Linked DNA regions of Homo sapiens. The protein of the gene in region 7 purifies or fractionates together with the protein of the main gene of each other region. This does not show direct contact. Each region holds a gene or a part of one and is shown on either strand. Other genes may lie near its edges. The genes, in order: ERGIC1, OFD1, ITPRID2, ARMC9, SCCPDH, IFFO1 and KRT86.

Region 1 (4,356 bases), on a different chromosome or scaffold from region 7:
GCCCTTGATCTTGAACCATCATTACAAGCATGAAGAAGTACAGAAGCATAAGGGCCTCCCAATGCCATATTTATCTTTAGGTCTCAGTTTCCAAATCTGTGAAGTAGGGATAGCCACCCTGTCTCTTCCACCTCAGCTAACTCTGGCTTCTTCAGTACCTCCTGGGCCTCTTGGGTGAAGAAGGGCACCCTGACCCTCCTGTTCTGACCCTAAGGACCTTCTGAATGGGAGGCCAGGAAACAGTAGACATGATAGAAATAATCAGCATAAAGGAAAACTAACATCAGCTTGAATCTGCCCTAGAGAAAACTGGATGTGGTAGAGACCATGGCAAAAAAGAGAGAACAGAGAGGAAGGAAAGGGAAAAATCGGACCCTATCAGCAGCTATAACTGGAAATTAGACCTGGAAAAAAAAATGAGTTCAATCTTTGGTGCAAAATTTACACATTAAAGGATAAACTCTGCTAAGAATAATTTCCATAACAATAAAAAGCTGGAGAAAATCCTAAACATCTAGTGGAACCATATGGAGATTTGCTTCAGGAATTAAATGGATTTCAGGGCATTCCCCTCTGGAAAATACTTTCTAGACAAAACGTCATCGATACTGATGTGTTTCTGACAACATTTCTCAGCATCCTTGGGGTCGAAGCCTCCTGTGCCCAGCCAGAGCCCCTAGCCCTGCAGGCTGCCTCCTGTTTCAGCGAGAACAGGTGAGGGGTGCCAAGGAAAGGGGCCCAGAGCAGGCGCAGGGTGGCTGGCTCAGGGCCCCACCCACTGCCCCAGGCCACTCACCGTGGTGATGAATCTGTACAGCGGCTGCCGTCTCTCTGTGTACTTGACCGTGATGGGGCTGAGGTCGTAGCGGAACCAGATTGCAGGGATGATGCGGCCCGTGTGGCTGTAGGCGACGTATTCCTGGGGTAGAGGATATAAGAATCAGAAGTACAAACTGTGTCTCAGGGGGGGCGGGGACTGGATTGCAGAGGGCCCCCCAGCAACCCTCCAGAAAGGGCTTTCCTCCCTCTCTGCCCCACGAAGCCAGACTCCCCCACTCCCTCTCTCACATCCCTTCCCCTGGAGGCCCTGAACTCTGCCGTGCACAGCTGGGCATTTTTGATACCCTTGGTTGTTTAGAAATTGACCAAGTGAGCTGCAAGCAGCACCAGAATCAGAAAATAAATTAGAAAGCAGAGCTGTAAAAGGAAAAGTGCAATTTTTGGCTATTGCCTCCTTCAACCTCTGGGCCACGCGAAATCCATTCATTTATTCAACAATGGTTTGCTGAACGCCTCCACTGTGGTGGCCCATGGCTGGCTGCTGGGGACCCCGAGGTGAGCAAGTCCTGCCCTTTACCCAGAGGGAGTCGCAGTCTGCAGAAGGAGGAAGACATAAGAATATCCCTAACACTGTGACATCATGCATGTGGGATGGAGGAACATGGAGAGTTGAGGGGAATGAATGAATGACCCATTCTCCCGGGCGGCATCTGGGAGACTGGGGAGGGGACATTCTGAGCCACACATGATGAATAAGCAGGAGTCCCAGTGTGTGTGTGTGTGTGATGGGTGTAAATGCCACGTGGGGAGTGGGCTAGCTTCTTCAGAGGAATAGACTGAACTGCAAAGCCAGAAGGCCCCGCCCTGCCACCAACCTTCCTGAGAATGCACACAGCAGGGACTAAGGATACTACGAGGCTGAGCTAACAGTGCATCCTTGGGCCAGCCCCTCCCTCCCTCAGGGACTTGGCTTCCCCATCTAAACACGGATGGGCCTGGGATGATGATCCCTGGGATCTCTCCAGTTTGGGCACTTCAAGGTGCTAAAGTCTGCAACAACTGGAGGCCAAATTGAACCACTGGGGTACCCCCAACCCCACATGCTGAGCCTGAGGAGCCCAGGCCACTCCGGGGGTAAGTAACACTGAGCCCTGACCTCCCGCTGGGTCGCTGCTGCCTGCTCCCAGGGCAGAGTGCGGCTGCAGCCATAGAGAAGCTAAGCAAGCTGTATTTGGCTGCTGGGCCTTGCCAAAGCATTGGGAAAAGGAGCTTTGTGCAAGGGAAGACCAGCTTTCTCCAGGAGAGCTGCTGGGGCAGGATGACTGTCTGGGTCACAACCCAGAGCTGAGGGACAGAGAAAAAGAGTGAAAAATAGCAGCAGTCAGTATCACTTACCTAAAGGCTTTTTTTTTTTGGTGGGCTAGGCATTTTTGAAAACATTGCCTCATGTGACAGCACTCTTATAAAGTATCATCTCCATTTTATGAATGAGTAAACTGAGGCACACAGTGGCTATGTGACATGTCCGGGGTCAATAGCTAGTGAATGACTGAGCTGGAATTTGAACTGCAGCGTGGTCCTGAGCTTGCATCTGTGCTTTTCCATCTGTTAGCTGCTATGAGCATGTGAGGGTTACAATGAGATGCCCCCTGTGAAACAGTGAATAAAAGAAACAGGGGCTCCCGGGAACATCAATTTAGGGTGAGTCAGAACAGAGGGACTAAGTCATTGGACAGAGAGCAGCTCGCAGGTGGGCAGACTCACAGCCCCTTCCTCAGACCGAGGCGTGAGGTGATCAAGAAGCCAGGCTCTGGAGCCCAAGGAAAACCTGTTCTAATCCCCACTCAGCCACTTTATAGCTCTACAACCACCTCTCAGTGCCTCAATGGTCAAATCAACAAAATGGGCTCAATAACAGTCTCAACATCAGAGCTGTCATGATGATTGAGAAGACGGAAGAAGAGAGCTTAGCATGTCTAGCCCCCAGGAAGTACTCAATGAGTGACAGCTATGCCTCCTACTGTTGTTATAATTAACTGAGCTAAACAGGTATCACTTATAAGGGGTTTGGGCAGCCTTGGAACAGAAGAAAAAGGACAGTCCTGGTGGTAAGTGGGAAAAACCCATCCGCCAGGGTCTAGCAGGGGCATTTCAACCAACAGGTTTCAAGTATTCATGTCCCATTGGTGGGATACCCCCAGGGAAGCCCAAGGCTGTCTTGTCTTGAGACCACTAATTGCTGGGTCATCCCACTCTGCAGACTCTGACCATGCTCTGCTGCCCACTAAGGCCTGGCGTCTTCTCCATGACTTTGAGTGTTGGGGTCCTGGGGACACCCCTGTCAATCAACAGCAAATTAATCAACAGCCATCTTGGTGTGACTCAGTAGCCTCATGAGTTTGGGTAAAGTGCCTGTGCCCTGAGAGCAGGAGTGTCTGTCTGTGTTGAGCACCCAGGGGTCTGTGTCTGAAGGACTCGGACCAGATGCAGGGCTGTTTGAGACCTGCAACCCCAGGACCTTTGTAGGACAGAGACTACCTGCTCTTTGTCAAACGCATCACACCCTATCTCCTGGTTAGATCTGTTCTCCTTGACTCTGAGACTGCCACATGGCAGGGACTGGGCTTTTCAATTTTACCCAGGGACAGCGCCTGGCCCAAGCTAACCCCCAGGAAAGGCCTCCAGAAAGGAATCAGAAGAAAGTGCGTCGGTGCAGCCGCCTGTCATCTCTGCTCTCCGTCAGCAGAGGGCGCCGCCGCACACAGCTCGGCCCAGCCACCGCCCGCGCACCTTGTTGGCCACCGTGTACTGGTAGGAGTACCGCTGCTTGCCACTCTTGTCCTCATAAACCGTGGGCACAATCTTCAGGATGTAGTCGTGGGAGGCCAGGGCTGCGGGAAGGACACAGCAGAATGAAGCAGGGGGACGGGCACTGCCCGCTGACAGCTCTATGTCATTTCAATCCTAAGCCTAAATTCCCTGGGCACGGCAGGGGGCTCATTCCCCAGTTTTACCACCAACCAACTGCTCTTCATCTTCTCCCCTTGGATACCGGGAATTGGGAGACTCTATCCATCAGGATCTTTCCTCCTGCACTGTGCACATCATTAAAATTCTGGAAACAACCCAAATGTCCATCAATAGAGCAACCATGAAAGAGTGAGTGTTGGCCAGGCGTGGTGGCTCACGCCTGTAATCCCAGCACTTTGGGAGGCCGAGGTGGGTGGATCATCTGCAGTCAGGAGTTCGAGACCAGCCTGCCCAAGATGGTGAAACCCCGTCTCTACTAAAAATTCAAAAATTAGCCAGGCGTGGTGGCAGGTGCCTGTAATCCCAGCTACTCAGGAGGCTGAGGCAGGAGAATCGCTTGAACCTGGGAGGCGGAGGTTGCAGTGAGCTAAGGTCATGCCACTGCACTCCAGCCTGGGCGATAGAGCAAGACTCTGTCTCAAAAAAAAAAAAAAAAAAAGTGTGGGTGCTAGGAGCAGCTATTCTCCAACAGGGAAAAGAACCAAGTCATGGGACAGGATACACATGTGTCCATGGATTGGGGGAGGAGGAGACACTCTGTATCCA
Region 2 (4,356 bases), on a different chromosome or scaffold from region 7:
TTTGGGTTCACAGCAAAGTTAAGTGGGAAGTACAGAGAATTCCCATATACCTGCTGCCCCTACACACTCATAGCCTCCCCCACTGTCAACATCTTGCATCAAGGTGGTACATTTGCTACAATCTATAAGCCTACCCTGACATGTCATTATCACCCAGAGGCCATAGTTTACAGTGAAGGTTGCAGTGAGCCGAGATCATGCCACTGCACTCCAGCCTGGGTGACAGAGCGAGACTGTCTCAAAAATAAAATAAATTTCACTCTTGGTGGTGTTCATATGTTTTTACTTTCTTTGTGTTTTCTGTAATTATCCAAAAGTTTCATATTCCAAAGTTTTAGTGACACAAGCTTAGTACAGTATTTGAATGAAAACTTAAATAATTTGCATTTCTTCATAAGCAACCAAATTTTATTTGTCAGCATTAGGAATTTATTTATTAATTTATGTTTTTGAGACAGAGTCTTGCTCTGTTACCCAGTCTGGAGTGCAATGGCGCAGTCTTGGCTCACTGCAACCTCTGCCTCCTGTGTTCAAGCAATTCTCCTGCCTCAGCCTCCCAAGTAGCTGGGATTACAGGTGCCCACCACTACACCTGGCTAACTTTTTTATTTTTAGTAGAGAGGAGGTTTCACCATGTTGGCCAGGCTGGTCTCGAATCCTGACCCCAGGTGATCTGCCCACCTCAATCTCCCAAAGAGCTGGGATAACAAGCATGAGCCCTCGTGTCTGGCCTGGAATTCATTTTTGATACATCATTCTCTAACTTTCTAATCACTTTATACTTTTACTTATTGTGTAATAGTCAATAATACAATTATATAGCAGGAATTAATCCTATTCATACAACTTAACGGTTTCTACTAATGTAAAATGCCCATGCAGAATATTTACTTTAAAGGAAAACCAATTGAAAACAAATATCAGTGTTCTCAGAGCAGACATAGTGAATGGTATATACTGTAGTAGAAATATATTTTAATAGCTACCCAAAATGTCTGTTAAACAATATTTTAAGTACACTTTAATTACGGTTTTAAGGACAGTAAAAATCTATTTACATTTTTAAACAATGAATACTTTTTAAAAAATTGTAATTGAATGACCCAGGAACTCAGTCATGTAGTCATTGGTTCATCAGATATTTCAGTGTCATCTGTAAGGCATTAAACATTTAGGCATATCATCTTTGATGTGAAGTACTTAGAAGTTAATTAGATGATAAAGATATTTTATCCTTTTGACCTTGATATGTTTATAGTAATTTATTTAACAGTGTAAGAAAGAGCTTGAAATTTGCTTTATTAGCATAGTTATAATCTTATTTAATCTGAAGGATGTTTCTTAATTTCATATTCAGAAACATATCCTAATTTATCATTTAAACACTGATATAAAAATATGTCTACTTAGTAACCTATTTTTTCTTAAGGTATTTACTATGCAGGATCTATTACAACTCATTAAAATCAACCCTACTTCCAGTCTCTACAAATCACTGGTAAGATGGCTTAGTTTCTGTAATCTACTTTGGTTTGTTAATTATAACTGAATAGCTGAATAAAAGTGAAATATTTTCTTTTAACAGGTTTCAGGATCTGATAAAGAAAATCAAAAAGGTAGGAGCCGTCATCTTTGTAGAGAACAGCAACAGTTTTCTATGTACTTTTTCCTCTAAAAGAATGAAGCAAATTTTTAGGGAGAAGAGTAAAATTTAATTTGATTTAAATTATTTGATTTCTGCAGGTCATTTCCCCTATATTTCCATTTTTGTAATAACTTTTAGATATTCAATTAAAAAAACTGTAGACAGTATCAAAGGCCCTACAGACAGGCTGAAAGATACTGTTTGTAAAAATACCCACTGTTGGGAATATTTCTGCAAAAAAAAAAAAAAAAAACTAATAACTTTTAGGCCAAGTGTCTTTGTATACTAGGTATCCCTCTCAAGTATAATTGGTAGGGTATTAGATGTATTAATATTTCCTTAAAGAATGAGAGTTGTGTTCAGTAATGTGTTATATATCTTTTGTTCTTAAATGTTTATACAGGCCGGGCGTGGTGGCTCATGCCTGTAATCCCAGCACTTTGGGAGGCTGAGGCGGGTGGATCACCTGAGGTCGGGAGTTCGAGATCAGCCTGACCAACCTGGAGAAACCCCGTTTCTACTAAAAATACAAAAAAATTAGCTAGGCGTAGTGGCGCATGCTTGTAATCACAGCTACTCAGGAGGCTGAGGCAGGAGAATCGCTTGAACCCGGAAGGCAGAGGTTGCGGTGAGCTGAGATCACGCCATTGCACTCCTGCCTGGGCAACAAGAGCAAAACTCCGTCTCAAAAAAAAAAAAAATGTTTATATAGACCTAATAAATTGCCTTAATTTTGGCCTTGATAATAGCCATTCATAGAGTCCATAACTACTGTGGGTTTCAGGCCATTGGTTAGACTTGATGATGGGCTTTGTAGCATGAACATAAGCTGGCAACTTGGCTTTGATGCATAGTTATTCTTTAGGTCTTTTAAAATAATCTGTTAGTAATAGTCCTTTTGTGTTGGTACACCCTTGGATTTTGTCTGTTGCCTGCACTATCATCCCCACAAGGACATTCATTTATTCATCCATTCATTCGCCAATTCATTTAGAACTTAATCATTTGAATACTTATTTTCTGCCAGCCATTAAGTCTGTGACTTAATCGCCAAGTCTCTTGGTAGTAATGTTAGCAGAATATAAATAAATTGGAGCACAAGATATTCTGGACTGCCCGCAAACTAGACCATCTCTACTGAAGTTCAGTATGGTAAATGATCCTATATTCTGTACTCTAAGTGTCGTCCAGTGTGACTCTCTGTGATTATGGAAATGTCTGTGTCTATGCTGTTTAATGTGGTAGCTGCTATCCTCATGTGGCTTTTGAGCCTTGAAATGTGGCTAGTGTGACTGGATAACTGAATTTTTAATTTACATTTAATTAGCTACACTTGCATAGTGACTACCATATTAGCATAATTCTGAGGTATATAGCTAGTATCTTTTGCTTAACTATTACTTCAAAAGGAAATTTGTGGCTTGAAGGGATATTAAGAAATAATCTATGGGCCAGGCACGGTGGCTCATGCTTGTAATCCCAGCACTTTGGGAGGGCAAACCTGGCTGATCACTTGAGGTCAGGGGTTCAAGACCAGCCTGGCCAACATGGTGAAACCCCATCTCTACTAAAAATACAAAAATTAGCCAGGCGTGGTGGTGAGTGCCTGTAATCCCAGCTACTTGGGAGGCTGAGGCAGGAGAATCGCTTGAACCAGAGAGGCGAAGGTTGCGGTGAGCCAAGATAGCGCCACTGCACTCCAGCCTGGGTGACAGAGCTGGACTCCATCTCAAAAAAAAAAAAAAAATCTATGTAGTTACTATAGATACATTATCCTTAAAAGTAGTTTTTCCATGGCCGGGCGCAGTGGCTCACGCCTGTAATCCCAGCACTTTGGGAGGCTGAGGCGGGCGGATCACGAGGTCGGGAGAGCAAGACCATCCTGGCCAACATGGTGAAACCCCGTCTCTACTAAAATACAAAAAAAAGTTAGCCAGGCCTGGTGGCGTGCACCTGTAGTCCCAGCTATTTGGGAGGCTGAGGCAGGGGAATCGCTTGAACCCAGGAGGCAGAGGTTACAGTGAGCCAAGATCACGCCACTGCGCTCCAGCCTAGCGACAGAGCAAGACTCCGTCTCAAAAAAAAAAAAATAGTTTTTACACAGTCTCTTTAAATGCATCTGGTTCAGAAAGACATCTGGCCGACAGCCCTTACCAGCTTCACCTAGCATCCCAGTAAAATTTCTGGAAGCCAGAAAAACTATGAGTAGCAGATAGGTCAGGCATCCTAGTGCCAAAATTTGGATAGAACTCTTAGCTAACAAAATAGCTCCTGGTAAGATAAAATTTTTTTAAAAATTGGTGTCTTCTAATTAAGTAACAGAAAACATGTAGGAAGATATTGTGTACTTAACCGTTGTCTGTCCCCTGACTCAGACCTATGGTCTTATCCTACCATATCTATGCTCAGGGGGTGCTAAGCTGTTGAATGGCCTTGGTACTTTTCCTCCTAGATTCTAGTCACCCATTCTTCCCACTGCTAATTTTCCTTTCAGAGATAATGATATCTGTTATGCGTGTCTGTGTGAAGAGACCACCAAACAGGCTTTGTGTGAGGAACAAGGCTGTTTATTCACTTGGGTGCAAGTGGGTTGAGTCCGAAAAGAGAGTCAGTGAAGGGAGATAGGAGAGGGGCAGCTTTATAGGGCTTGAGTAGGCAGTGGAAAGTTACAGTTAAAGGTGGTTATTTATTGTTAGCAGGGGAGGGGGTCC
Region 3 (4,356 bases), on a different chromosome or scaffold from region 7:
ATACAACATACTGAATTAGGACCACTGCAAATCTATATTCACAACAATGAGTATAGTCTTTCCAGTCCTGCTACCAATGCAATATGGCCATTTTATTATATCTCATTATTCTTCATCACTCAAAAAACAAACTAGCCAAAATGTATTCTCTTTTTTTTTTTTTTTTTTGAGATGGATTCTCACTCTGTCACCCAGGTTGGAGTGCAGCGGTACAATATCGGCTCACTGCAAGCTCCGCCTCCTGGGTTCACGCCATTCTCCTGCTTCAGCCTCCTGAGTAGCTGGGACTACAGGCACCCGCCACCACGCCCGGCTAATTTTTTGTATTTTTAGTAGAGACGGGGTTTCACCATGTTAGCCAAGATGGTCTCGATCTCCTGACCTTGTGATCCACCCGCCTTGGCCTCCCAAAGTGCTGGGATTACAGGCGTGAGCCACCGCGCCCAGTCGCCAAAATGTATTCTTGACAAACCAGGAATGTGTGCCAATCTTTTTTGGGAGTACAGGCATTATTGGAATAAAGTATAAAAGAATCCCTACCATCAAGCATGATATAATCTCAATGGACACAAAATGAATACTGTTTCATAAAATATATTTCTTATTTATTTATTTTTGTGACAGAGTCTTGCTGTGTCATCCAGAGTGGAGTGTAGGGGCGCAATCTCGGCTCACTGCAACCTCTGCCTCCCACGTTCAAGTAATTCTCCTGCCTCAGCCTCCTGCATAGCTGGGATTACCACCACACCTGGCTAATTTTTGTATTTTTAGTAGAGATGGGGTTTCACCATGTTGGCCAGGCTGGTCTCGAACTCCTGACCTCAGGTGATCCGCCCACCTCGGCCTCCCAAAGTGCTGTGATTACAGGCGTGAGCCACCACACCTCGTCGGTTTCATAAAATACTAAAGGAAAAATAATTTATTGATTCATTAATGACATAAGAACAAAAAATTTTGATAAATGAGAGACTAGTGTGGGACAAAATTCTCAGAGAATGGCAGCTTTTACATGGTATGTCACAACAAAGAAAGAACAATTTCAGATGACAGTGGAGATAGAAAACTCTGTAGCAAGACGGTCTCAAATAAGAGGGGAGTATAATGGAGCCTGACTGCCAAGACAGTTCCCTCTAGAGAGCAGAAGGGAATCAGAATAGGAAGGGTGAGGTCAGATGGAAGGTGTACTGTGAGCTCCTTCAGCGAGCAGGTCAGGTCTCATTTATCAGTGTATCTCAGCATACAGTAAGAACTCAGTAAGCGTCTGAATGAATGAATCAATGAGAGAGTGAGAAAGCACAAGGGTGAGAGACAATATCAGACACAAAAAGGAAGAGAAAGCAGAAAAACGAAAGCAGACTACAGATAAAATGGCCCTGAAAATGATACAATGTCTTTATTAATTTATTGAATGAATAAATGCATGGACAAATAATTTAGTTCTAAAGTCTCCCATGCTATGGAGAGGTTGGAAGGATTAGAAGTGAGGAAACTACCCTGGGATGGATGGTAAAATTACCTTTATGAGCATAATTTCCAAAAAAATGTAGGCTAAATACAGACTACCTGAGATTGAGAAAGTCATGCTGATCGACAATACAAAAAGACTGACTACAAGTCTGAAGTATGTGGGAACACATCCACTTATTATGCACTTACTGAGTGCCTACTAAGTGGCAGCTATTACAAGTGATCACTAAAAGAAATTTCCATAAGAACACATGAGCAAGCTGTGTATTTACCAAAATACATGGGTAAAACATGTCAGACGTGCTCTAATAAAGATCCCAAAAGGCATGAATCAAGTCTATGAACTCTAATTAACAAATAACTCTCTAAACACAAAGCAATCTATGTTTACTCCTTGACATTTAATTTTGCTGAATTGGCTTCTGTGGGCATGTATTCATTCATCCTATTAAGTAATCTTTTTATTTACACACATTTATACATTTTTAAAGTAACTGCAAACAGTTTCAGGCCACTGATCACATACATCACAGATGACTTGGGCAAATTTTAAGACAGTGTGTACTTTTTTCCTAGTACAATGCACATGCAGAAAAGAGGTATCTTTAATATGACAAAAGTTTAGCTATGTAATTAGTGTATTAAATATTTGTCTGAAAAGACTTTCAATGTTGTCCTTCAAAAAAAGAATTCTACTGTATTAACACATTATAAATGATGAAAACCCTCTTTTTAAAAACCTCACTTAATGGTACAACGAAAGAAACAAAGGCCTGACAGATACCATTGTTTTCATGCATCCATGAACGCAGTAAGAAAACTTTCCTGAAAGTGCCTGCCAAACATGCTTAATCCTCACCTGCAAAACTGTTCAACCCAAGATTAAATCTTGCCTTCCTGAATGGTGGCTTTGTTAATGGGATTAGGGGCTCAGATCTGCTAGGAAGACAGAATCTAATTTAATTTTCTTGGTAGCTGTACACCAAGATTTTAAAAAATTGGAATTTAGTACAGTATGTATTTAGGTAAAAAGGTTACCAATTTGAATGACTGGAATAAAAACCAAACTAAATTTTAAATACTTTATAAACAGAAAACTATTGTAACTAAGAGAATATTAACATAATTTTTTAAATTATAACTGGCATTAAACTATTAAATATGCTTTTAAAGTACTTCAAAATAATTTGTTTTCTTAAGTACAACAATACTCCTCTTATGCCTTGTTTGATCTATACATATTTTGCTGGGTAGGCCCTTTGTAGACAGTAAAAGAATAAATGTTAAACCCAATTTCCTCAAGCCTATGCCAAATTCAGAACTAAGTAGTTTCTAATTAATGGTTTAAATAACAAATTCTGAAAAATTCTTTGAACATTTGCCTTGCATACCAGCTTAAGTGTTTGCAAATTATAAAATCTTTCATATTTAATGAGAGGTTCTTTTAAATGATTAATTCTCTAGGACCAAGGCAGCCTAATGGGAATAACTAAATTTTCTATATGCTGTGTCTTATAAGCCAAAGAATCAATGTTCTAGTCTGAAATGAACACTTTATTCTTAGGAAATCACCTACAGGACATATCAGGCCATTAAAATTCTAAAAATGAGGATTCAAGTGTGCATTGAATGGAGTATTTGTTTTAAAAGAGCAATATAAAGTTTTCAAAGAAAACTTTCATACCAAAGCAAGCTAAGGGGAACAAAACCATCACATTTCTAGAAAAAAAAAAATTACCTTAAAACCCACTTCCTCAGTTAGCAAATATAGTGTGGAGAAGAATAATTACATAATTTCACTCAAAAACTAATCTTTGATATAAAACATGTAAACAGGAATGGATTATTAATCATAGACACACCTGACCGAGTAGGGTGAATGCTGAGTTTGCTAAACATTAGGCAGCCAAAACCAATTTACAAAAATAATTACATTTGTAGGAAAAATAAATTTATAGAATTAAGACCTTTTAAACATTTAGTTGGTAGAGTCATATCATGAAAATAAATTACAGATATGAAGTCTTCTGCTATAATGCTTGTTTTGAAAATGTGATTTGATTCAACATGATTGAAATACTAGAGAACTGCATATACAGCAAATTTCACATTTGCTTATGTACAATTTAATCCACAGAATACTACTAGGTAAACAGAGATAATTGCATTGAGCTGTTTAAACGATATATTCTATTCCTTCCTATTACCTGATCTCAGTGCAAAAAACATTTATTTTACTAATTTTCTCAACTTTTGAACTTTCACTACTAATCATATGTAATTTCCTTTTGCAGTTCTTTTGGTCATCCATAACTATGGTAATTCTTCAAGTTCTTATGCTGCTATCACCTAGGGCAAACCCTCTTTTCTTCGTATATTTTGATTTTTGAATAAAAAACACCAAACCAAATCAATCTATTTATACTTATTAAAATCACAAAATCATTTTCTCCTATCAATTGTAATTATAAAATGCAGTTTCTTTTTTTTTTGAGATGGAGTCTTGCTCTGCTGCCCAGGCTGGAGTGCAATGGCATGATCTTGGCTCACTGCAACCTCCGCCTCCCAGGTTCAAGCAATTCTCCTACCCCAGCCTCCCGAGTAGCTGGGACTACAGGCACATGCCACCACGTCCAGCTATAAAATGCAGTTTTTAATCCTCGAAGAGATCTAAACTGTAAATCCTCATTTTGTAGATGTGGAAACAAGAGGTCCAAAGAGTACGTCATGTTTATTTTGAGTCCTTCACATATCTTTTTCACCATACTGAACACAGAGAATTGTAATTATTTCACATTAGAGTATGAAATTTGCAGAAATGCCATTACAAATATATCTTAATTGACACAAACTTGATCAACAGGAAAGCTAATTTAAAAGCTCTGTGAA
Region 4 (4,356 bases), on a different chromosome or scaffold from region 7:
CGAGGTTCTGGCTGGGCATGGTGGCTCACATCTGTAACCTCAGCACTTTTGGGAGGCCAAGGCGGGCGGATCACTTGAGGTCAGGAGTTCAAGACTAGCCTGGCCAATGTAGTGAAACCCCGTCTCTACTAAAAATACAAAAATTAGCCAGACGCAGTAGCACGTGCCTGTAATCCTAGCTACTAGGGAGGGTGAGGCAGGAGAATCGCTTGAATCCTGGAGGCAGAGGTGGTGATGAGCCGAGATCGTACCACCGCACTCCAGCCTGGGCGACAGAGCGAGAGACTCCATCTCAAAAAAAAAGAAAAAGAAACGAGGTCCTACTGTGTTGCACAGGCTGGTCTTGAACTCCTGGGTTTATGCGGTCCTCCTGCCTCAGCCTCCCAAAGTGCTGGGATTACAGGATTCAGCCACCATGCCTAGTCAAGGATTTTTAAGGTCCCTTCTAACCCTGAGAGTTGAGGTCTGTATAACCTCTGTGCCCCTGCAGCCCACTGGTATTCACAGAGCTATTCAGACTTCCTTTCACAGACCCGCCTTGTCAGTCTCACTCTTGCTCCCTGTTCCCTCCAACCTCCCCAAGCTAGAATGCAAATGCTGTGCTGGCAAGGGGCTGGATTTTGTTTGTTCACTGCTGGATCCCCAGTGCCTAGAATTAATAACCTGAAACTCCTCAGGAGGAAGGCTACAATTGTCTCAGTTCCTAAACACTGCATGGTTTCTTCTTTTCCTTCTTCCCAAGAAATGTTTGTGAAAGATCTTATATGGCCACACATTTCCTGGGGAGGGTACAGAGATTTAAAATGACATTATTAGTTCATCTATAAACACTTGTGCCATCTAAAGTAACTCTGAGCAAGTGCTCAAAAACTATTCTAGCACTATCCAACAGCAGCATTTTCCACAAGTTGGGAGCATCCTGAATTATCTACAGGGATGAAAAATAAGCAAAATGTTACCTGAATTGTCAATGATTTGGAGTCTCTGAAAGATCCGCCTACTGTTTTACACAATGGTTTTCCTTTTATTTTGCATTCTTTTGAAAATGTTTTCAAGGTGTCTTCAAATTCAGCAAAATCTAAATACTATAAAAAATAAATAATTCAATTCAACAGCAAAACAAACAAATAATCCAATTAAAAAACAGCCAAAGGATCTGAATAGATATTTATCCAAAGAAGACATTAAAAAGACCAACAGATACATGAAAAGGTGCTTAACATCACTAACAATCAGAGAAATGCAAATCAAAACCACAGAGACCTAATTACCTCACACCTGTCAGAATGGCTATTACAAAAAAGACGAAAGATAAAAAGTCTTGGCAAGGATGTGGAGAAAAGGAAACACTTGTGCACTCTTGGTGAGACTGTAAATTGGTACGGCCATTATAGAAAACTGTATGGAGGTTCCTCAAAAAAATAAAAATAGAACTACCGGCCAGGAGCCGTGACTCAAGCCTGTAATCCCAGCACTTTGGGAGGCCAAGGCGGGTGGATCACGAGGTCAGGAATTCGAGACCAGCCTGGCCAGCAAGGTGAAACCCCGTCTCTACTGAAAATACAAAAATTAGCCAGGCGCAGTGGCGCGTGCCTGTAGTCCCAGCTACTCGGGAGGCTGAGGCAGGAGAATCGCTTGAGCCCAGGAGGTGGAGGTTGCAGTGAGCAGAGAAAGCACCACTGTACTCCTGCCTGGGCGACAGAGTGAGACTCCATCTCAAAAAAAAAGAAAAAAAAAAGAAAAAATGGTATAGGCCAGGTGGCATGGCTCATGCCTGTAATCCCAACACTTTGGGAGGCTGAGGTAGGAGGATCGCTTGAGCCTAGGACTTTGAGACCAGCCTGGGCAACAAAGCGAGACCCCATCTCAAATAAATAAATTTTTAAAAGAAAATGTGTTATATAGGTAGGGTGCAGTGGCTCATGCCTGCAATCCCACAACTTTGGGAGGCTGAGGCAGGAGGATTGCTTGAAGCCAAGAGTTCAAGACCAGCTTGGACAACAGAGTGAGATCCTATCTCTACAAAAATTAGAATAAAACCTAGCTGAGCATGGTGGTGCACGTCTGTAGTCTCAGCTACCCAGGAGGCTGAGGCAGGCAGATTGCTTGAGCCCAGGAGTTCAAGGCTACAGTGAACCATGATGATGCCACTGCACTCCAGCCTAGGCGGCAGAACAAGACCTTGTCTCTAAAAAGATTTTTAAATGTAAATTTTTTAAAAAAGAATATATTCGCCATCACACCACCAAATTCCAAATCTGCAGTTGCACGGTGGGTGCCTCATCCCTGCTCCAGGCCCGTGGCTCTCGCAACCTGCAGGTGGTTACTCACACAGTTAAGCAGCAGCAAGCGCGAACCATTTCTTTAGCACCAGAAAGTTTAAGGCCTGGGCCCTACTTGTCAAAGCTTTTAGCGTAGGAAACCTAGGCCATTACCAGACAATGAGTTAAAAAAATTATGATGCAGCCACTCAATGAAATACTCTATGGCATTCAAATGTCTAGGGCCGATCATAGGCAGATGTTCATGCTATATTATTGTTGGCAGATAAAAAGCAAGCTACAGAACAATGTATCATCCCATTCTGTAAAACAAACTACAGGCATGTGAATATATTTTTACTATACATAGAAAAAAGTCTGGGAGGGAAATTTCCTTTTTATACTTCTGTAGTGCTTGAATCTTTTACCGTGGACGTGTATTGCTTTTATAATTTTCTTTCAAGGGACTTTTTAAGTGGCTTTAAGATTTGTTTAGTTATAAAACCAAAATGTAAATACATGGAATATTATATAATAGAAAAATAGCTCCAACATAACAATAGAAGAAACATTACAAGGCACTAAATAGTTTGTTGCATTTTAAAACACAAGTTTTCAAGATCTGTTTCTCTGTGACCTCTGCTTTGTATAATATACCTACCTCTTTCACTAGTCCAAGTAATTCAGATTCATGAGCCAGAATGTCCCCCATATTGAACTGTTACTGGTAATTAATTCTCACAGCAAAAATCTCTAGAAGGCAAAAATACAAGACAACAGCTTTCATTTCAACCACCTATGAAACTACAAAAAGGTGGTTGTGGTGAGCAGAATAATGGCCCCCAAAGACATCCATGCGCCAATCCCCAGAACCTGTGAATACGTGAGGTTACACGGCAAGGGGGAATTAAGGTGCAGATGGAATTAAGGTTGCTCATCAGCTGACCTTTAAATTGGGGGATGATCCTGGATTACCCAGGTGGGCCCAAGGCAGTCACAGCAGAGGGAGGGGGGCAGACGGAGGCAAGAGGGTCAGTGCCAGCATGATGAGATGTGAGAAAGACTCAACAGCCACTGCAGGCTTTAAAGGGGATAAAGTGGCATAAGACAAGGAGGGTAAGGAGCCTCTAAAAACTGCATAAGGCAAGGAATAGATCCTCCCACTGCATCCAGAAATGATCCAGCACTGCAGACACCTTGACTTCAGCTCAGTGAAAGCCATTTCAGACTTCTGACCTCCAGAACTAGAAGATATTAAATCTTTGTTGCTTGACACCACTCAGTTTATGGTCATTTGTTCAGCGGCACTAGGAAATACAATGGCTAAAGTCAAAAGAAACTCTTCCTACTCTTTCTACTAGCCCTCCCTCAAGGTGTACCCAAAGCAGTCATTCCCCATGGCCCACACCCCAGGCTCAGCCCAAAGCAGTTGCCCGTAACCCCAGAGGAATGAAAAGGTCTGGGCTCTAATGTTAACCATGCCATTCACTGGCACCTGATCTGAGACAACTCACTGAAGTGCAGAGCCTTTCTTCATCTATAAAATTCAGAATGTGTCAGAACTCATCGAATTTTTTTTTTGAGATGGGATCTCACTCCGTTGCCCAGGATGGAGTGCAATGGTGCAATCATAGCTCACTGCAAGCTAAAACTCCTGGGTTCAAGGGATCCTCCCTCCTCAGCCTCCCCAGTGGCTAGAACTATAGGTGCATGCCACCATACCCAGGTAATTTTTTTTTTTTTTTTTTTAAGTAGAGACAGGGAGACAGGGTCTTACTAAGCTGCCAAACTCCTGGGTAATGCAATCCTCCCGCCTTGGCCTCCCAAAATGCTGGGATTATAGGCGTGAGCCACCACACTCAGTCAGATCTCTTCTGAGTCTGTAACCTTACATTTTTCTGCCACTGCCTCCCCACCTCCTTTCTCTCCACTTCAATCCAATTTCTACACTTTTAACAAGTGAGCATTCCCCTCCTGCTTGGGACCCTCCTGTGGTTCCAGCGCCCTCCAGATGAAGGCCAGGCTCCTTAGGCTCAACTCCCAAAGCCCTAGACAACTTGGCCTCTGACACACTCCCATTTGTTCTGTAAACCTG
Region 5 (4,356 bases), on a different chromosome or scaffold from region 7:
CTGCCCATTCCTTACTTTTACTGCATTTTGTCACATCTGGCCCACTTCTTTGAGTAATCTGGAGTTGAGACTTCTCACTAACTTATTCCTATTTTATGAACTTGCTAGATTTTTCTCCACTTAGTACCCTGTGCTTGTCTGAGACAGGTGAACAGTCAGAGTAGCAATCCTTCATCTCGGGGAGACACTTCTCCCCTGTGAGGCCAATTGGCTCAAAGGTCAGAACCGCAATCCTGCTCTCCATGTCTCATCTTCTTCTTTTTTCTTTTTGAGCTGGAGTTTCATTCTTGCTGCCCAGGCTTGAATACAATGGCGCAATCTCAGCTCACTGTAACCTCCGCCTCCCGGATTCAAGTGATTCTCTTGCGTCAGCCTCCCGAGTAGCTGCAATTACAAGTGTGTACCACCATGCCCAGCTAATTTTTTGTATTTTTAGTAGAGACAGGGTTTCACCATGTTGGCCAGGCTGGTCTCAAACTCCCGACCTCAAGTGATCTGCCCACCTCAGCCTCCCAGAGGTTTGGGATTCCAGGCATGACCCACCGCGCCTGGCCCTCAAAGTTCCATCTTCTAACCCAGTGGTCTCCCAAGTAGTCTTCCCCTAAGGGAAGCGCAGAATGATCCACTGAGGGTGGAAGTAAATATCAGAACTTTTATCCATGTTAATGTTTACAAAAACATGACGTTCCGTTAACGGTTACTATATGGACTGACTACGAGACATTCCCTGGGCCATGTTAAGTGGTCATGTGTTGAAGACAGGACACAGCAGGTATCCTGATGGGGTTGTGGGAAAGTTTCCATCACACAGAGAGGGCCTCAGCACCACTCTTCATTCATTCAGTCGTTTTCACTTTACTGCAACCTAATGCCTGAATGAGGTTATTGAGGTTCTAAAGCTTAAACGCTGAGGCCTCAAGCATTTAGAGTGGGGAGGACAAAGACGCAGTGGAGGAGACGAGGACTTCCAGGGTGAAGCTGGTGGACAGGAGGAAAACTACGAGAAGATGACAACGTAGAAGCTGAGCAAAGAAAGGAGAAAGTGGTCAGCTGGATCGAATGCTGCAAGCTTTCAGATGAAGACTGGATTTGACAGGGTGGGACTTTAGCAGAGTAGTTTCATTGGAGGAGGGAGGAAAACAAAAGCCCAATAGGAGGCGTTTAAGATAGAGTAGGAGGTGAAGAAGCAGAGATAGTGAGTCATGAGAATTCTTCCAAGGAGGCTGCTAAAAAGGGGGCACAAAAAGTAGAGTAGTTGGAAGGGTATGTGGAATCAAGCAGCTTTTTTTAAAATATGGGAGATATCACATATTTAAATGCTGATTGAAATAATCCAGTAAAGAGGAGAAATTTGATAACAAGATAATGTGTAATTGTAAACATAAAGTGTTACAGGAAGTCAGGGACCCCGAACAGAGGGACCAGCTGAAGCCACGGCAGAAGAACATAAACTGTGAAGATTTCATGGACATTTATTAGTTCCCCAAATTAATACTTTTATAATTTCTTACACCTGTCTTTACTGCAATCTCTGGACATAAATTGTGAAGATTTCATGGACATTTATCACTTCCCCAATCAATACTGTTATAATTTCCTATGCCTGTCTTTAATCTCTTAATCCTGTCATCTTTGTAAGCTGAGGATGTATGTTGCCTCAGGACCCTGTGATGATTGAGTTATCCGTACAAACTGTAAAACATGTGTCTTTGAACAATATGAAATCTGGGCATCCTAAAAAAGGAAGAGGATAACAGCAATTTTCAGGGAACAAGGGAGATAACCATAATGTCTGACTGCCTGCGCGACTGGGCAGAAGAGAGTCATATTTCTCTTCTTGCAGAAAGCGAATAGGAGAAATATCACTGAATTCTTTTCCCAGCAAGGAATAACCCTGGGAAAGGAATGCATTCCCAGGGGGAGGTCTCTAAAATGGCCGCTCTGGGAGTGTCTGTCTTATGCAGTTGAAGATAAGGGATGAAATACACCCTGGTCTCCTGCAGCACCCTCAGGCTTGCTAGGATTAGGAAATTCCAGTCTGGCAAATTCTAGTCAAACTGGTTGTCTGCTCTCGTACCCTGTTTCCTGTTAAGATGTTTATCAATGACAGTGCGTGCCCAGCGGGACATGGAACCTCATCAGTAATTCTAATTTTGCCCTGGCCTTGTGATCTTGCTCTGCCATTTGCATTGTGATACCGTATTGCCTTTTGAAGCATGTGATCTCTGTGACCCACTCCCTATTTGTACACTCCCTCCCCTTTTGAAATCCCTAATAAAAACTTGCTGGTTTTGCAGCTCAAGGGGCACCACGGAACCTGTCAACAAGTGATGTCACCCCCAGAGGCCCAGCTGTAAAATTTCTCTTTGTACTCTTTCTCTTTATTTCTCAGACTGGCTGACACTTAGGGAAAATAGAAAAGAACCTATGTTGAAATACTGGGGGCTGGTTCCCCCGATAATAAAGTCTTTGAAAACTGTGCCCAATAGGAAGAGGACCAGTTTTTCCTTGTAACAAGAGATATGGCAGACTACAGGGTATGATGCAGATTGGCAGACAGGTAGGTAGGTAGATAGATCTGGTGGTAGGAAGATGAAGAAAGAAATTCTGTTATTAACCAGCTTCTATTTTCATAGTTAAAAAAAAAGAAAAATAAAATCAGATAAGAACAAGGAAAGAGAGACGGGATACTAAAAGTTCAAGGAAAACAAGGTTGTGAGCTGCTTCAGAGAGCAGGAGAGAGAATTCCTGAGGGAAATAGAGCAGAGCTGCCGGAGGTGCTAAGCACCACACAACGTTTGTAAACACATATTTGAAGTGTGACCAGTTAGCAGGGGGATACATTTTTCTCCAGCCACACTGTGTTACTCATGTTCAGGTGAAGAGCAGGCAGAGAATAACCAGGGCTGGGATTTTTCCAGAGTACTGAGGAGAAAAAGGCAAGGGAGATAGATGAGGGCGTCCATTATAGAGTGCAGCAGTGGACCTCATGGATGGAATCTAAGCTAGTTAAGAATGAGATGAATCTAAATCAACAACACTTCTATTTAATAGCAATTCAAAAACCCTTTTGCTCTCAATTAAAAATTATTAATATTTTAGATATTTAATTTTTAAACATCTTGCCAACTGTGATGGCTTCTTCAGATCACTAAATGTCACCAACATTCACCTTGTTACACAGGCCAAAAGTCTGATGGCCTGTGACTTGATGACTTTTTCACAGTACAACAGCAAAAGCCGTTCTCCTTTGAAAATATACTCTGGACCTAACTACTTCTCAGCACCACTACGACCCCAGGGCTTGTGCTTGCACCATTCCATTGCTCATCCTTTGTTATCTACTTTTCCACTCAGAAGCCAAAGAACTTCCAATTTAAATCAGCTGAAGCCCTTCCTTTCAACCATTCAACGCCTCTTGGTCACACCTGGAAAAAAAATCCACATCCTGGCCATGGCCCGTAAGATCCCACATGACCCAGCTCCCGGGTTGCTCTCTGATCCACTCTCCACCTCTCTGCCATGCCCAGCCACACTGGCCTCTGTCACACTCTTCAGTCTTGCCAAGCACACTGGCATCTCAGGACCTTTGTGCCTGCTGTCCCTGGAAAAGTCTCTCCTCAAAAGGTTCATGCAATTTGCTCTCATTTCATTCAGATCTTGGCTCAAATGTCAATTCCTCACAGAAACCTTCCCTGACCATCCATCTAAAAACACCAATATGCCAGGACCTTTTCTCCTTTCTTGGCTTCACTTTTCTTCAAAGCACTTTTCATTACCTCCTATTACAATCCTATTTTTCTGTCTTCCCCAAGAACGTAATGTCCACGAGGGATTTTCTGTTTTGTTCACCATTGTGTCCCAGGTGCCTACAATAGTGCATTTCACATGTGGTAAGCATCAATAAATATTTATTCAATAAATGAGTCGTTTTTTAGTCTTCTTTTTGTGCATTTAAAAAATATATTTACCCAGTAGTACAAGAATATAATTTATAAATAAAAAATATACTAGGGAGACACACTCAAACATTTTTTACCGAAGGGGTATATAGTAAAAAGGAAAGAAAATTCTGACAATCACAGATGTAACCAATCAACAAGCCAGCACACATGCCCTAAGGAGAACGTCATGGAGAGCCTGTCACTCACTCTCTCAGGAGACTTTGGTCATCTCCAGCTGCTCCTCGCAAGAAGAAAAAACTCCCCATATGGGGTTAAGGCCTTCAACCAACAATTCTGTCCTCTGTCCTTATGTTCCTCTGGAATATTTTGCTAGAAATGAATGGATTGTTTGTTCTGATACAAAGAAGGGTTGATTACTTACTGGTCCTACGCAATTGAGGACAACTGTTGC
Region 6 (4,356 bases), about 46 Mb from region 7:
ACTGCACTCCAGCCTGGGTGACACAGCGAGACTCCGTCTCGGAAAAAAAAAAAAAAACCTCACTCTATCCAGACCAGGACATGAACCCTCCCTCTGTCCCAAGGATCCACACTGTCTATACTGCCTGCCCATTAGTTACTTAGGAGCCATCTCAGTGATGAGATTGACTGTCGTGGTATGGCAGTGCCCGTGTTCAAGGAACCCTTATTTTTACTTCATAATGGCCCCAAAGCACAAGAGTAGTGATGCTGGCAATTTGGATATGTGAAAGAGAAGCCAAAATATGCTCCCTTTAAGTGAAAAGGTAAAAGTTTTCAACTTAATAAGAAAAAGAATCCGATGCTGAGGTTGGTAAGCTCTACAGTAAGAATGAATCTTCTATCCGTGAAATTGTAAAGAAGGAAAAAGAAATTTGTGCCAGTTTTGCTGTCACACCTCGAACTGCAAAAGGTACCGCCACAGCGCACGCTAAGTGCTTAGTTAAGATAGAAAAGGCATTGAATGTGTGGGTGGGAGACATGAACAGAAACACGTTCCAGTTGACAGCAACTGGACCCAAGCTATCAGGAGGTCAGTGCTATCTTTGGTTTCAGGCATCCACTGTGGGTCTTGGAACACATGCCCTGAAGATAAGGGGGGACTACGTATGAATCTCCCATGTGGGCCTGAAGAGAGGCTGAGACGCAGAGAAGGCTCCATGCCTCTCCCAAAGTCAGAGCGTCGGGAAAGGACCACCTCACCAGGCCAGGAGAGCTCACGGGGGTCCCGTCCATCCCTCCTCCCACAGCAACAGCAACCTCCATTCTGTGGTTCCACAAATCCTTCTTCCTTTGTTTGTATTTTTGAGACGGAGTCTTGCTCTGTCGCCCAGGCTGGAGTGCAGTGGTGCGATCTCGGCTCACTGCAAGCTCCGCCTCCCGGGTTCACGCCATTCTCCTGCCTCAGCCTCCCGAGTAGCTGGGACTACAGGTGCCTGCCACCACGGCCAGCTAATTTTTTTTTTTTGTATTTTTCGTAGAGACGGGGTTTCACCGTGTTAGCCAGGATGGTCTCGATCTCCTGACCTCGTGATCTTCCCGCCTCGGCCTCCCAAAGTGCTGGGATTACAGGCGTGAGCCACCGCGCCCGGCCTCCACAAATCCTTCTTGCAGCTCCTAAAGCCTAGAGTTTGAGCTAAAGCACCAGCTCCACTTGCCTCTAGGTACCTCTAGAAGGTACTTCAAGGCTTGGGAAAAAGCATGGAGATTTCTCTGTTATCTCAAAGGCTGAGTGGAAGAAACAGGAAAGTCCCAGTCCATCTCTGAGTGCCATGGCACTGATAGTGTTAATAATAATAAAACAGTCCCCACTATGCTACACTCGCTATGAGCCAGACACTGCCCTAAGCTCTATATATGCATTATTTCATCTGATCTTCTAAACAACCCTATAGGTGAGGTATTATTAAATTCCTCATTTTACAAATAAAAAGGCCCGGCACAGTGGCTCATGCCTGTAATCCCAACACTTTGTGGGGCCGAGTTAGGAGGACTGCTTGAATCCAGAAGTTTGAGGGCAGCCTGGAAAACATAGTGACACCCTGTTCTCTGTAAAAAAAATCAAAAAATTAGCCGGGCGTGGTAGCACACGCCTGTGGTCCCAGCTACTTGGGAGGCTGAGGTAGGAGGATTGCTTGGATCCAGAAGATCACGGCTGCAGTGGGCCTGGAGTGACAGAGCAAGACCCTGTCTCAAAAAAAGAAAGAAAGAAAGAAAGAAAGAAAAAGAAACAGGTGTAGGGCTGGACACATGGCTCATGTCTCTAATTCTAGTACTTTGGGAGGCCGAGGCAGGAGGATCACTTAAGCCCAAGAGTTTAAGACCTGCCTGGGAAACACAGGGAGACACCATCTCTACAAAAAAATACAAATAAAAATTAGCTGGGTATGGTGGCACACACCTGTGGGCCCAGCTACTCAGAAGGCTGGGGTGGGAGGATCACTCCAGCCTAGGCAACAGAGTGAAACAGAGTGAGACCTTGTCTCAAAAAAGAAAGGACAGAAAGACAAGGGAGAGAGGGAGGGAGGGATAGAGGGGGAGGGGAAGAGAGAGAGAGAGAGAAAGGAAGGAAGGAAGGAAGGAAAGAAAGGAAAGGAAAGGAAAGGAAAGGAGGGGCTCAGAGGGAACAAGTAACTTATTACAAGTTCAGGGTGGTTGTAAGTAACAGAGCTGAGATTTGAACCGATATCTGTCTGTTTCCAGAGCCTGAGGTCTTCAGAGCCCACCAGGAGGACTATAGCTGAGAGATCACTCCTCCTCCCAAGACCTTGGTCTCTAGGGTCCTGCAGCAGGGATGAGGCCACTGCGCCTGCAGCCCCACTCAAAACCCTCTGGGACACCACGCCCCTGGCTTCCGCTCCTGCCCTTACCTCTATCTGGTCAATGGTCTCCTGATACTCCTTCTCCCGGGTTTTGAACAGGGACTCCGTATCTTTAATCACCTTCTCCAGGCTATCTTCCTGCTGCTGGAGTAGAAAGGGAAGCGGGGGAGGCCAGCCAAGGAGGGATGGGATGGGACGCATTCCAAAGGGCCAAGTCAGGGAGAGAGAGAGAGAGGAAGTCTGGTTAAAGAAACTGGAGAAAGAAAAGCAAAAGGATAAAGGAAGAGGGGAGACGCAGGTAGAGGATGACAGCCACATGGGGGGACAGAGCAAGGAGAGGAGCGGGGGAGTGGGCTTCAGGCTGGAGAGGCAGAGCCAGAGGGCCCTGAGGCCGGGAGCAGAGGTTACCTCTCCCTGGGCCTCTGCAGCTGCCATGGCATAGCCTGAGAAATCCTCCCAAAGCAGCAGGGTCTCCTCAGTCTCCTCCCAAGTCAGGCTGTCACAGTCGTCCTCAAAATCATACTCCCTCCTAGAGACAGGGAACCCGGGTGTCAGGGCGGGCGGGGCCTCGTCCTGGCGGGGGACTGGGGAGCTCCGGCCTCCTGGGCTGCTGTGGCGTCGGTGCTGCGGGAGCACGGCCTGCGGACTCACAGCTGGTTGAGCATGCGCTGCATCTCCTCGTTGATGCTGAGGGCTGTGCTCTCCTCCTCATCCCCATCGGGCTGGCGGGGCCCCTCACTCTCCGACAGGGAGGTGTCCTCCTCGACGGCAGCCTTGCGCTCCCGCTTCCGCCCCCCCATGGATGGGACCTTAATGGGAGACAAGTGCAGAGACTACAGAGACGAGGCCGGGTGCATGAGGAGAAAGGGCGGGAGCGGGAGGCCGGGCAGAGAGGGTGGGAATGGGGGAGAAGCATGAACCAGTAGGAAGGGGGGGCAGACAGAGAGAAAAGTCACAGTTACAATGACAGGAACAGAAACACGGACAGTCACCAAGGGCCAGACACACAGCGGGGGTCAGGGCTGCAAACCGAGAAGGCAGAACAAGAAGAAATCGAGAAGAAGAGCAGTCAGACAAGGAAGGAAGGGCTCGCTGGGGCTGCAGTCAGATGTGCATGATGGCTCAAGAGGAAATTTTTTTCTAAAAAAAGTCTTTTTGATTAAATGACTCAACTAAAAAAAAAAAAGCTTTAGGACGCAAGGAGGATGAGTGTGCAATGTGTACAAAAGAGAACCTGAATCACATCCAGATCTGGAAAGCCGGGGGAGAAGGGAGAGAAAGAAATGCAGTCAAGAGAACAAGAGATAGAGAGAAAAAGGGGGAAGAGCAAGGAAAAGGGAAAGGGCAGAAAAAAATCCGTGCTCAAGAGCCCAGCGGGCCCAAACTGAGGGCCAGGAGGCCTAGGCAGCTTAGAAACTGGGACTGGGACATTAATAAGCTTGCGTGAGATCAAACTAACCAGCTTCTTCTGTGGAGGAAGCAAGAGAGAAGATGAGAGGAAGAGAGGAGAGGAAGCAGACAGAGGAGAGAGAGGGGGAAGGGAGAGACGGCGTTAGAGACAGCTTCCACGATGCCCCTCCTGATGCTGCTCCTTACCCCCCAGTCTAGCCCCGTGAGGGCCCCAGTTGCCAGGTAAGGCTCCCCAAGCAGGAGGCAGGGCCTGCGTTCCAGGCCAGCCGCCACGGAAGCATCCACCTGCCCCACCCACCCCTGAGAGCAGAGGGCAGCTCCGTCCTCACCTGGAACATCTGGATCATGTCCTCGCAGTTGCGCTGCTGAGCCACATCGCAGAGCTTGGCGGTGATGTCGATGCGGCGGCAGATGTCCATATCCACCTTCATGGCTTTCTCCTGGATCTTGGTGTCCAGCTCCGACAGGTTCTGTCCAGGGAGCCCAGGGAACAGTGAGGAGGCGCCCAGTTCTCCAGACAAGGACGAATTAGGCCTGGCAAGGTCCTCATCCTTCCCACCACATTGCACCGGTGCCTCTTCTGTGGA
Region 7 (4,356 bases):
TGTGCATGTGTCTGTCTGTCTGTGTGTCTGTGTGCCTCGCCCATCAGACTGGGATCTCAGGCAGGCAGAGGTCTTTGTGCCTCTGACTCCATCCTTAGTGCCCGGCCCTGGCTGTGTAGGTGGTGGGGGTTCAGGAAGGGTGTGATCCAGGACACCCACCTTGTCGATGAAGGCCGCGAACCTGCTGTTGAGGGACTTGATCTGCTCCTTCTCCTCCTGCTTCACGCACTGCGCGTTGGGGTCGATCTCCAGGTTGAGGGGCGTGAGGAGGCTCTCGTTGACCGACACGGTGGTGATGCATGGGGGACTGGGCCCGCACACGCCCCCGGAGCGGTAGCCGAAGCTGCGTCCGCAGGAGCCGGCCCGAAAGCCTCCGCACACGCTGTGGCTGCCGAAGCCCCCGGTGAGGCCGCGGTAGCAGGAGATGCCACGGTAGGGGGCGGCGGTGATGCAGCAGCGGCCGGGCCGGGGCCCGCAGGCCGAGATGCAGCTGAAGGCGCGGCCACCACAGTAAGATCCACAAGTCATGGTGCTTTTTGGGGAAGAGAGGAGGTTCTGAGGATGGAGACGTCCGAATGGAGAGCACAGTGGTCGGGGCGTCAGGCGTTCACTACTTGCACCTCTGTAGGCCTTTTATATAAGTGGGGAGACTGTGACCACGTGGGTCGGAGCAATTAGAAGGCTTTATGGGCTTGGGTTGTTTAGCTGCTGTCGCTCCCCACTTAATGTACTTAATTGGTGCCCAGAAGCAGCCAGATGTTATGATCTCTTGCCCTAAACTGCAGTTTTCTTCTTCAAAGGACCAACTCACGTCCCGCACACCCACCTCAACCTCCCAATACACAGTTGAGGAAACTGACGTTGGACGAAGGAGTGGGCAGTGACTCAGGTTGGAATGGAAGGGAAGGGGCGGGGCTGCTGCTCTTTCTGTCCTGCGGGGTTTGACATGGTCAATGCCGCTGTCCGCGGTGCTCATAGGACTAGCCAGGAATGTTGGGAGGGGGAATCCCTTGATGTGGAACTTGGGGGGCGCTTGGTGGTTTCTCCGAACTAGATGACCTGTTTCTGCACCCCAAAAGACCCACGTTTACAGAATCTCTAACTTAGTCACCTTCTCAGGGACCCAGTTCCTCCACACCTACTCCCAAATCCCTTATCTATACCTATCAACATGTTTTTTTCTCTCTCTCTCTCCCACTCTCTGGTGCACACACACATACACACACAAACTCACACACAATGCACTCACATGCTGGCCTTCCTACTCACAACCCCCCCTCTCTCTTTCACATACACACTCACACACACAATGCTTTCACATGCTGGCCTTTCTACCCACCATCTCACACACACACACACACTCACAGGTCCTCACCTGCACATTCAACTAGCATGTAGACTAGTCCTCAGGCCACCTTATTAGGTCATATTGGCCAGCCTCGGCTGAGAGGAGGCATTCCCTCCCTCAGAGTGTCCCATGCGGCCTCAGGAGCACACACTAGCCCACTGGCCCCAGGAAAGCACAATTACCTCCCACAAGGCCCTAGACAAGGATTGAATGTCTGGATGTCCTCTCAGGCCTCTGTGTAACCTCCAGGGCCTAGAAGGTCTGGGATGAGCACCACTGTTATGCATCTATACAGTATCTGGCTCAGAATATGAGATCAAATAGAGCCACATGAGGAGAGCATCCAGCCCCTGCCATCATCCCCTGAGTCCCTGCTGCTTTCTGCACTATACTCCTTGAAACTCCTGCACAGAAGTTTGTCAGTACCCTTGGCAGGTGCCAGAGAACAGATCTATATTTGTATGTGCCATCCATCCAGTGTGAATAGTGTGGGTCTTAAACTCACAAAGGCTGGGTAGGAACCAAGGCTCTGCCCTGAGTACCCCTGTGTGATCTAGGGGAAGGCACTTGACTCTCCTGGGAAATAGGTTAAGGCTTTCCCTCCTACTACTGCCTTAGAGTTACAGAAATGTGTACATGCTCAGTGGACTCCAGAGCACAGAGCAGATGGGCTTCATTACAATCATTAGGAAGCGGTGGGCTCAGGGGCAGTGTTTATTCAGAATTCATGTTCTGACCCACTAATTGAACCAACCAGAATTTTATTTTAATGAAATTGATTATGAGAAAATCAAATAGAGTAGAATAGACCAGAAAATAGCAGATTGCACCTTATGTCATGGGAATAACTTGTTACATGCCCTTTTTGTTTCAGTTGTATGGCCTATGTATATGTATGTGCATACTCAGTCACCATGTAAAATTATTTCTTATTATAGTTGCAGCAGAAAAGTTGAAATATCTATTTCTCACTGTATACAAAAACCAAATTAAAATGGATTAAAGACTTAAATATAAGACCTCAGACTATGAAACTACTAGAAGAAAACATTGAGGAAATGCTTAGGGCATTGACCTGGACAAAGATTTCTTGATTGAGACCTCAAAACCAAAGGCAACCAAAGCAAAAAATGGGCAAATGGGATCACATCGAGCTAAAAGAACTTCTGCACACCAAAGGAAACAATCAACAAGTTGAAGAAATGACCTACAGAATGGAAGAAATATTTGCAAACTATTCAACTGACAAGGAATTCGTAGCTGCAATATATAAGGAACTCAAACAACTCAATAGCAAGTAAACCAAATAATCTGATTTTAAAATGGGCAAAAGATCTGAATAGACATTTCTCAAAAGAAGACATATACATGACCAACAGGTATATTGAAAATGCTCAACATATCATCAAAGAAATACAAATCAATACCACAATAAGATTATCATCTCAACCCAATTAAAATGACTTTTATCAAAAAGACAAAAAAATTATGGATGCTGGCAAGGATGTGGAGAAAGGGGAACACTTGTACACTGCTAGTGGGATGTAAGTTACTACAGCCACTATGGAAAACAGTATGGAGTGTCCTCCAAAAGCTAAAAATAGAACCACCAGGTGATCCAGCAATCCCACTACTAGGTATACATCCAAAAGAAAGAAAATTCTTATATCAAAGAGATGTCTGCACTCCCACGTTTATTGCAGCGCTATTCACAATAGCCAAGATTTGGAATCAAACTAAGTGTCCATCAATGGATGAATAAAGAAAGTATGTTACAGATACACAATGGAATATTATTCAGCCATAAAAAGGAATGAAATCCTGTCATTTGCAACAACATGGATGGAACTGGAGGACATTATGTTAGGGAAAATAATTGAGGTACAGAAAGACAAATTTCAGATGTTCTTACACATATGCGAGAGCTAAAAAAATTGATCTCATCAGATAGAGAGTAGAATGATGGTTACCAGAGGCTGGGAAGGGTAATGGGGAGGGGAAGATAAAGACGTGTTAATGAGTACAAAAATACAGTTAGATAACAGAAATGAGATCTAGTGTTCAGTAGCACAATAGAATGACTATAGTTAATCATTTATTGTGTATTTCAAAATAACTAAAGGAGTAGGCTTGGAATGATCCCAACACAAAGAAATAATAAATGTTTGAGGTGATGGATATTCCAAGTACTCTGATTTGATCAGTACACAGTTTATGCTTATCTCAAAATATCTTATGTAGCCCATAAACATGTATAACTATTATGTACCCATAAAAAGAAAACATTAAAATAAATAAATAAATAAATAAAAAGTTTGAATACATGGCATATTAGTTAAGCACACAGACTCAGATTCCAAACTGCCTCGTTTCGAATTCTAGCTCTGCCACTCTCTAGCTGTGTAAACTCAGGCAATTACTTAGCCTCTATGTACCTCATTTCATGATTTCTAAAATGAAGATAATAATAGTACCCACCTCATAAAGTTGTAAAGATTAAAAGAGTTAATCCATGTAAATCACTGAGAACTAAGCCTGGCACACTCTAAGTGTGTAATCATATTAGTTGTTGTTGTTGTTGCTGCTGATGCTGCTGCTGCAGACGTATCAACAGCATTGATGGGATATACTCATCCACATGCCTAAGCCATCTGTGTCCAGTTTTCATTAACCGCCTTATCTTAAAGAACTTGTAGAAGGATTAAATGAAATAATGCATGGACAATGTTTAACAGCAGCTGGCACATAGAAAATGCTCAATAAATGTTATCTACTATATTCTACAGTGGGAGCCAGTCCAAGGGGCAGAGGATCTGAGAAGTTTGGCCATGGTTACTCCATTTGTCCTCGAAAAGAACCCCAAAACACATGCCCCTCCTTCAATCTCTGCTCCAGCCTGATTGCCTCAGAGAAGGTCCAAAGAGAATCTCTTCTCTTTGGCAAAGGAACACACCACCAATCCTTGGGTAACCATACTACTGGATGAGAAGAGAGGCTTGGATAATCTA

What was found.
Region 1: the proteins of KRT86 (region 7) and ERGIC1 purify together in Homo sapiens (affinity purification with mass spectrometry; one large-scale study listed by BioGRID and IntAct). This does not show direct contact.
Region 2: the proteins of KRT86 (region 7) and OFD1 purify together in Homo sapiens (affinity purification with mass spectrometry; one large-scale study listed by BioGRID and IntAct). This does not show direct contact.
Region 3: the proteins of KRT86 (region 7) and ITPRID2 purify together in Homo sapiens (affinity purification with mass spectrometry; one large-scale study listed by BioGRID and IntAct). This does not show direct contact.
Region 4: the proteins of KRT86 (region 7) and ARMC9 purify together in Homo sapiens (co-immunoprecipitation; one large-scale study listed by IntAct). This does not show direct contact.
Region 5: the proteins of KRT86 (region 7) and SCCPDH purify together in Homo sapiens (affinity purification with mass spectrometry; one large-scale study listed by BioGRID and IntAct). This does not show direct contact.
Region 6: the proteins of KRT86 (region 7) and IFFO1 purify together in Homo sapiens (affinity purification with mass spectrometry; one large-scale study listed by BioGRID and IntAct). This does not show direct contact.

Annotation. Positions count from the first base shown.
Region 1 is NC_000005.10:172,931,751-172,936,106, reverse strand, and holds part of ERGIC1 (endoplasmic reticulum-Golgi intermediate compartment protein 1), read right to left. Parts: intron 3,672-4,356; coding exon 3,571-3,671; intron 920-3,570; coding exon 797-919; intron 1-796. UniProt on the Homo sapiens protein: Possible role in transport between endoplasmic reticulum and Golgi.
Region 2 is NC_000023.11:13,737,417-13,741,772, forward strand, and holds part of OFD1 (centriole and centriolar satellite protein OFD1), read left to right. Parts: intron 1-1,429; coding exon 1,430-1,498; intron 1,499-1,585; coding exon 1,586-1,616; intron 1,617-1,627; exon of another isoform or gene 1,628-2,797; intron 2,798-4,356. UniProt on the Homo sapiens protein: Component of the centrioles controlling mother and daughter centrioles length. Recruits to the centriole IFT88 and centriole distal appendage-specific proteins including CEP164. Involved in the biogenesis of the cilium, a centriole-associated function.
Region 3 is NC_000002.12:181,922,525-181,926,880, reverse strand, and holds part of ITPRID2 (protein ITPRID2), read right to left. Parts: intron 1-4,356.
Region 4 is NC_000002.12:231,204,856-231,209,211, reverse strand, and holds part of ARMC9 (lisH domain-containing protein ARMC9), read right to left. Parts: intron 3,015-4,356; 5' UTR 2,974-3,014; coding exon 2,923-2,973; intron 1,086-2,922; coding exon 960-1,085; intron 1-959. UniProt on the Homo sapiens protein: Involved in ciliogenesis. It is required for appropriate acetylation and polyglutamylation of ciliary microtubules, and regulation of cilium length. Acts as a positive regulator of hedgehog (Hh)signaling.
Region 5 is NC_000001.11:246,726,975-246,731,330, reverse strand, and holds part of SCCPDH (saccharopine dehydrogenase-like oxidoreductase), read right to left. Parts: coding exon 4,327-4,356; intron 1-4,326.
Region 6 is NC_000012.12:6,545,658-6,550,013, forward strand, and holds part of IFFO1 (non-homologous end joining factor IFFO1), read right to left. Parts: intron 4,240-4,356; coding exon 4,099-4,239; intron 3,828-4,098; coding exon 3,819-3,827; intron 3,193-3,818; coding exon 3,011-3,192; intron 2,889-3,010; coding exon 2,768-2,888; coding exon of another isoform or gene 2,504-2,767; coding exon 2,408-2,503; intron 1-2,407. UniProt on the Homo sapiens protein: Nuclear matrix protein involved in the immobilization of broken DNA ends and the suppression of chromosome translocation during DNA double-strand breaks (DSBs).
Region 7 is NC_000012.12:52,298,089-52,302,444, reverse strand, and holds part of KRT86 (keratin, type II cuticular Hb6), read right to left. Parts: intron 631-4,356; coding exon of another isoform or gene 529-630; coding exon 160-528; intron 1-159.